2 linked regions of the Homo sapiens genome follow. The protein of the gene in region 2 interacts with the protein of the main gene of each other region in a pairwise test. Each region holds a gene or a part of one and is shown on either strand. Other genes may lie near its edges.

Region 1 (2,850 bases), on a different chromosome or scaffold from region 2:
CCAGGTACACTTCCCGAACCACAGCAATAAAGGAAACTCATCGTAAGTAATGACCGCTTGCTTGTCAACTGGGCAGATTGGGTAGGCCACAAGCACTCACTGGTTTAGCTGCATTCTCCTTTATCAAGGAATTTAATACTTATTTATCAGGGTTTCCAGAAAAATACGTGGCCATAAACGAGTCACAATTCTGCATCTCTAATATTCAAATCCAAACCATTTTGAAAGTTCAAACTTCGAATTTCTATGTAATTCAAGACTCTCCTAGATTTATTTAACCACATCTCCAATTAATCCTGATTCATTTCTGGCCTCTACCACCTGCCCACCTATGAAATGTATCTTCCATGTTTAATTTAGAATTCTGTATATTCAGTTCAGCTTGTATTAAAAACTAAGAATTTTAAAATAGGAAAATGGAGACACACATACAACCTGCATCTGGTGGGTTAAGTATACAGATATGGCACTACTTTCTGTAAATAATGCAAATACTCAACATTTGAAAAGTTTACTGAAAACTTTTATTGTAATCAAAAAGTGACATAACAGGGTTGTAATGAATTCAGCAAATCATTCTGCTGATATTTTAGAACTTATATCAGCTTTTGCCAGGCAATTAAAAAATTCAAATGTGAAAATTTCACATTACAGTAAACTCCACCCCAACTAATTAATGGTGGTTAAAAATAATAGGCCCTAGCAAAACCTCTCATGTTACATGGTCACAACTCACAATTCTGTACAAAAGTTCGTGTTATAAAGCTCTGATGTAAAAATCAAATAATCAAGCAGCAATATTTTAAGTGCAGCACAGGGTCTTCCATGTCATTATTTACAAGGCTTGAATCTCTTTACATTATAACAAAATTTAATACAGATGACTTAGTAATTAAGTCAATTTAAAAAATCTGTCTTTTTACACAGTGACAGATTTCACTTTTTGGTCATCTTTCTCCTTCTCCTTCTCTTTATCTTTGTTCTTCTTTGACTTCTTTTTCTTGTGTTTGTGTTTTTGGCTTTTTTCCAATTCCACTTCAGTGCCTGCATGTTTCTTATGCTTCTTATGCTTTTTATGTTTCTTGTGTTTTTTCTTTTCCTTCTTTTTCTTCTTCTTCTTGCTGTCCTGACTTTCTGCTGAGCTGGCACTGCTACTGTGGCTTCGGGTCTGGCTTCCAGAAGGACTGTGGCTTCTGCTGGGGCTGACGCTGGGGCTGCTGTGGCTCTGATTCCTGCTTATGCCCACCTGGACAACTGCTGCTGTGTCCAGGCTCTCTTTTGCTTTCTCCACTATTTTATCTTTCAGGTCCTTAGAAATGTTTCCTGAAGATTCCTCTTCTTTTACAGAAACATTACTTTCACTGTCACTTTCATTATAGTCTGGTTCAAAAGCAGCTTCATCAGTTTCTCTAGTTAAGTCAGAGGAAAGTCTAGAGGAATGACTTAACTGGGGTTTAGGCTTGACAGTACTCTTGTCAATTTGCCCAGTAATTTGCTCTTTTTCAACCTGTGTCTCTGGTGGGTTAAGTATATAAAGTAGTTTATTGCCACTTGACTCTTTATTGTTCCTTGCTTCTAATACATGCTTCTCACGATCCTTACAAGGATTTTTATCTACAGATTTTGTCTCTTCATTTGGCCGTTTAGTATCATAAGTGGCTTTGTGATCATGAGGTTTTCTGTCTCTTGAGGGACTAGAATTACTTTTTTTGGAATCTCCTGTTCCTTTTTTAGGCAAATCTCTCTCTTCCCTTGGTTTATTTTTCTGTCCAGATGCAGAATCTTTATTCCGAGAAGGAGAGTCTTTTCGTCTTGTTAATTCATTCTTTTCATCTCTACGTTTGGAACTTGAATACTCTCTGGTGTCATAGTCAGTTTTTTTGTCTCTATTGGGAGTGAAGTCTTTATTTGAGGAAGCACGAGTGGAATCATGTTTATCTGACGTTCTAGCCTCTTTGGAAGATTGAGACAGACTTTTAAAATTTCCTTGTTCATTCAGACGGTCCAAATTACTCTCTTTCTCTGGCTGAGTGCTGTTCTTCCTCTTTTCAGGGTTCTCCTTTTCCAACACTGAATAATCTCGATCTTTGGTTTTCCCTTTTTCACTAGATGCAGAGTTTTTTGAACTTTTAACCTCATGTTGTATGATTTCATGGCTCACGTCCTTGGTGAATTTCTGAATTTTCTCGGATGGCTCACTTTCTTTCTCAGGATACTTGACTATATTTGATGGCTTTGTACTAACATTTTTTATAACACTAGCAGGTTTTCCTACACTTGATATAGGCTGTGTGGATTTAACATCTTCTTCTTCAGATTCAAAGTCATCTTTATCCCATTTGGATTGAGGAACCTGAATCATAATGATAACATCTTCAGCTGGCGCGGTATTGTCATTATTATATTCTTCCATCGTTTTAATCACAGTTCGCTTTGTATCTGTTTTTTCTTCAGATTTCCGCACAGGACTGCCTCCAGTTGAGCTCGTACTAAAAAGAATAACAAAATATTTTTAATTAATGAAGAATTTACTATTAATTATAAAACACTGATAAATATAAAAATGCTAACTTAAACACAAATGTCCTTTTAACATTAAAAAAAACAAAAAACTTATTCTGCCCTAAGGAAGACACACAATTTAAGATTATGATTGTATCAACACAAATGTGGCTCACCCCCAAAATCTATTTACAACCTTGTCTTTGGCAATTCCCTTCTTCAAAGACAACAAAAGACTACATAAAACCAGCCTACTTCCCTAGATCAGCATTCATAATTAATATAAAAAGCACAAGCATGGATAAAACTGAAGAAAATCCTTCTCCCAACAAAGTTCCACACCCACCC
Region 2 (2,671 bases):
GCCTGGTGCAAGGGAGACCGAGGGACCCAATCTCCAGCAGGGACAATGGAGAAGCCTCCGTAGAGCGCGTGGTGAAGGCATGGAGGCCCCCAGTCGCTGTCCCCCCACGGCTCCGTCCGAGCCCCTCACCTGTCCCATGGGGGTGTCCCCAGCTCCCTGGGGGCGTCCGCTCCGGCGCTCCAGGGCTCGCCCTGGTCCTTGCCCGCCGGAAGGCCTGGTCCCTCGGGCGCCTCCTCCGGGCCCGCGCCCCACCGCGGCGGCGACCAGGGCAACATTCCGCGTTCCCGAGCGCAGGACGGTACCGCCGTGTCCCCGCCGCCCGGCCCGGCCCTCTCAGCCTCCCTCCGCGGCGCGGCGCGAACGTGCCCTCCTGGCGAACCCACCCCAGAGGCCTCGCGGCGACGCTGGCGCCCTGTGCGTCTCCCGGCCACGTGGCGCGTGCCCCCGCCGGGCTCCCGCGGGCGCCCCCTGGCGACTGGGCGGTGAATTCCGGAAACAGAGGCCCCCCCAACAACCCCGCGACGCACGTGCTCTCAGACACAGTTACACCTGAGGGCCACCCAGAGGGCTTCTGGCTTCTGTTTATTGCGGCTGACACGACACCTGCGACACCCGCGGTCCTTCCACCCAGACCCTCGACCCCAGAGGCAGCCAGGCCGGCAGGCCAAGGGTGCCCAGGCCCAGGCCACCCTCACCACGTGCTTCTCTGAGAGCGCGGAGCCCAGGCGCGTCTTCTGCTCCCGGGGTCCCGGGCGGGGTGGGCCCTGTGCCCCCACCTTCACCCCTAAGGCCGGTCCAGCAGGGCGTGGACGACAGCAGCGATGTAGGGGAGGCCCCTTCCCGGGGCCCCCTCCTCTTCCAGGATGTGGTGGGGCTGGCACAGTGACTCCTGGGGGAAGGGGCCGGGTTAGCTTCCCCACGGTGCCCCCTGCGGCTTCCGGCCTGTGGCAGGGGGTCGGGGGCAGACCCGAGCATCACCGTGCGCTCGGGGCTCGGCGACAAATGAGACGCAAGAAAGCTGTCAGCGATAACAGAAGGGAGGTGACACGGGGGGTTGGCGGACGCTCCGGGAGCATGAGAGGCCGGCATCTCAGGAGGGAGATGCTGGTGGGCACAGAGCCATGGCCACAGCCACCAACACGCGGAGCAGACGCGCGCGCGCGCGCACACACACACACACAGGCAGGGCGGCCACGGTCTGTACAGTTTATACACAGAGATAGGGACCCGGCCTGGGCCCCGAACCCCTACAAATATAGATCCTCTCTACAAAATAGAGATAATTTAGCCCCCCCATAGCAGCTGTTGGGGGGGGAAGGGGAGGGCACAGGAGGAAGGGGGAGACTCCAGCTCCTGCCACCCCTCACGGGGTACAGAGGGCAGGGGCAGGGCCGGCGGGGACATGAAGGCACCGTCAGCACTGAGAGGTGGGGACTCGTGGGGCTACTGGAGGGAGGCCAGAGGCTGGGGGCCCAGGGTCTGGGGGCACCAGAGTGGGGCCTCTGAGGTCAGTGTCTGTGAAGGGGGTGCACTAGTGTCTTTGGTTGGGGCTGAAGGCACCGCAGGTGGGGTCGGGTGGAGCAGGGACCTTATAAATAGAGAGGAAGGGAAAGGGGTGAGGGAGGGCCGATTTTGGGGCCTAGGAACCCAGGAGCCGAGTGTAGGTGACATAGAGCAGCAGCATGAGGACCACGTAGAAGACGACGAAGCCGCCCAGACCAGAGGGGGGCCAGAGGGGCGGTAGGGCCTTGCCCCCCACCCGCTTCACGGCCTCCAGCGCGGTCCGCAGCCCCCGGGCAGTGCCCTGGAGGAGATCCGAGGGCGAGCACAGGTCAGCCTGGGGGAGAGGAGAGCAGGTGGACAAGGACAAGGGACAGACGTCAGCAGCAGCAGCAGGACAGTCCCTCCCACCCCTGCCCTCACGTGCTGGGGCCAGAACCACGCCCACATGCTGACGTGCTGGGCAGGGGGAGTGCAGTGCAGGAGGAGTGCAGGGCAGGGCATGTGCAGGACAGGTGACATGCAGGACAAGATGGGGCCTGCAGGGCAGGGGATGTGTAGGACAGGTGACATGCAGGGCAGGGGGCATGCAGGGCAGGGGGCATGCTGGGCAGGGCAGGGGCAGCCTGTGCCTTCATCTGAGAGCAGACATCCGCTGCAAATGGAAGCCCACCATCCATGCCACATGCTCGGCTGAGTCCGGCATGCCACCACTCTTTAGAAAGCAGCCCCCATACCTCAGGCACCCCCATTTTTCGACAGGCTTCTAGAAAACTCTCCACATTCTTCCGAGCCTTGAGGGCACTGAGTTTTGGCTGGGGTGGGTGAAAGAAGAAAATGTGGTAAGGGAGAGGCCACAGGCGCCCCGGCCCATCCCCCACCTCTTCCCCAGCCCCAACTGACCACAGCAGGGGAGGGCACATGGATGAAGGGCACGGAGCGCGGCCGTAGCTGGTTGGCCAGCTGGCACAGGATGACCCCACTGGCCAGAGCCTCGGCCAGGTCCTCAGGCAGGGGCCGCTGCAGCCGGGACTCAAGGACCTGGCAGTGTAGACCACATAGAGCAGGGGTCAGGGAAGGAGAGGCGTCTGGGAGGCAGGGAGAGTGGGGGGCTCAGGGCTAGCAGGGAACTTGTGCCTGTCCCTTCCTGTCCTCAGGGGAGGTGCCAGAG

What was found. The genes of interacting proteins can lie anywhere in the genome.
Region 1: the proteins of LRCH4 (region 2) and RBBP6 interact in a two-hybrid assay, tested with the Homo sapiens proteins (one study listed by BioGRID).

The regions. Positions count from the first base shown.
Region 1 is NC_000016.10:24,570,515-24,573,364, reverse strand, and holds the end of RBBP6 (E3 ubiquitin-protein ligase RBBP6), read right to left. Parts: intron 2,490-2,850; coding exon 920-2,489; 3' UTR 502-919; downstream 1-501. UniProt on the Homo sapiens protein: E3 ubiquitin-protein ligase which promotes ubiquitination of YBX1, leading to its degradation by the proteasome.
Region 2 is NC_000007.14:100,573,468-100,576,138, forward strand, and holds the end of LRCH4 (leucine-rich repeat and calponin homology domain-containing protein 4), read right to left. Parts: intron 2,542-2,671; coding exon 2,404-2,541; intron 2,316-2,403; coding exon 2,238-2,315; coding exon of another isoform or gene 1,920-2,237; exon of another isoform or gene 1,838-1,919; coding exon 1,640-1,837; 3' UTR 890-1,639; coding exon of another isoform or gene 785-889; 3' UTR 544-784; downstream 1-543. Other genes in the region: histone deacetylase complex subunit SAP25, read right to left, coding at 130-275. UniProt on the Homo sapiens protein: Accessory protein that regulates signaling by multiple TLRs, acting as a broad-spanning regulator of the innate immune response. In macrophages, binds LPS and promotes proper docking of LPS in lipid raft membrane. May be required for lipid raft maintenance.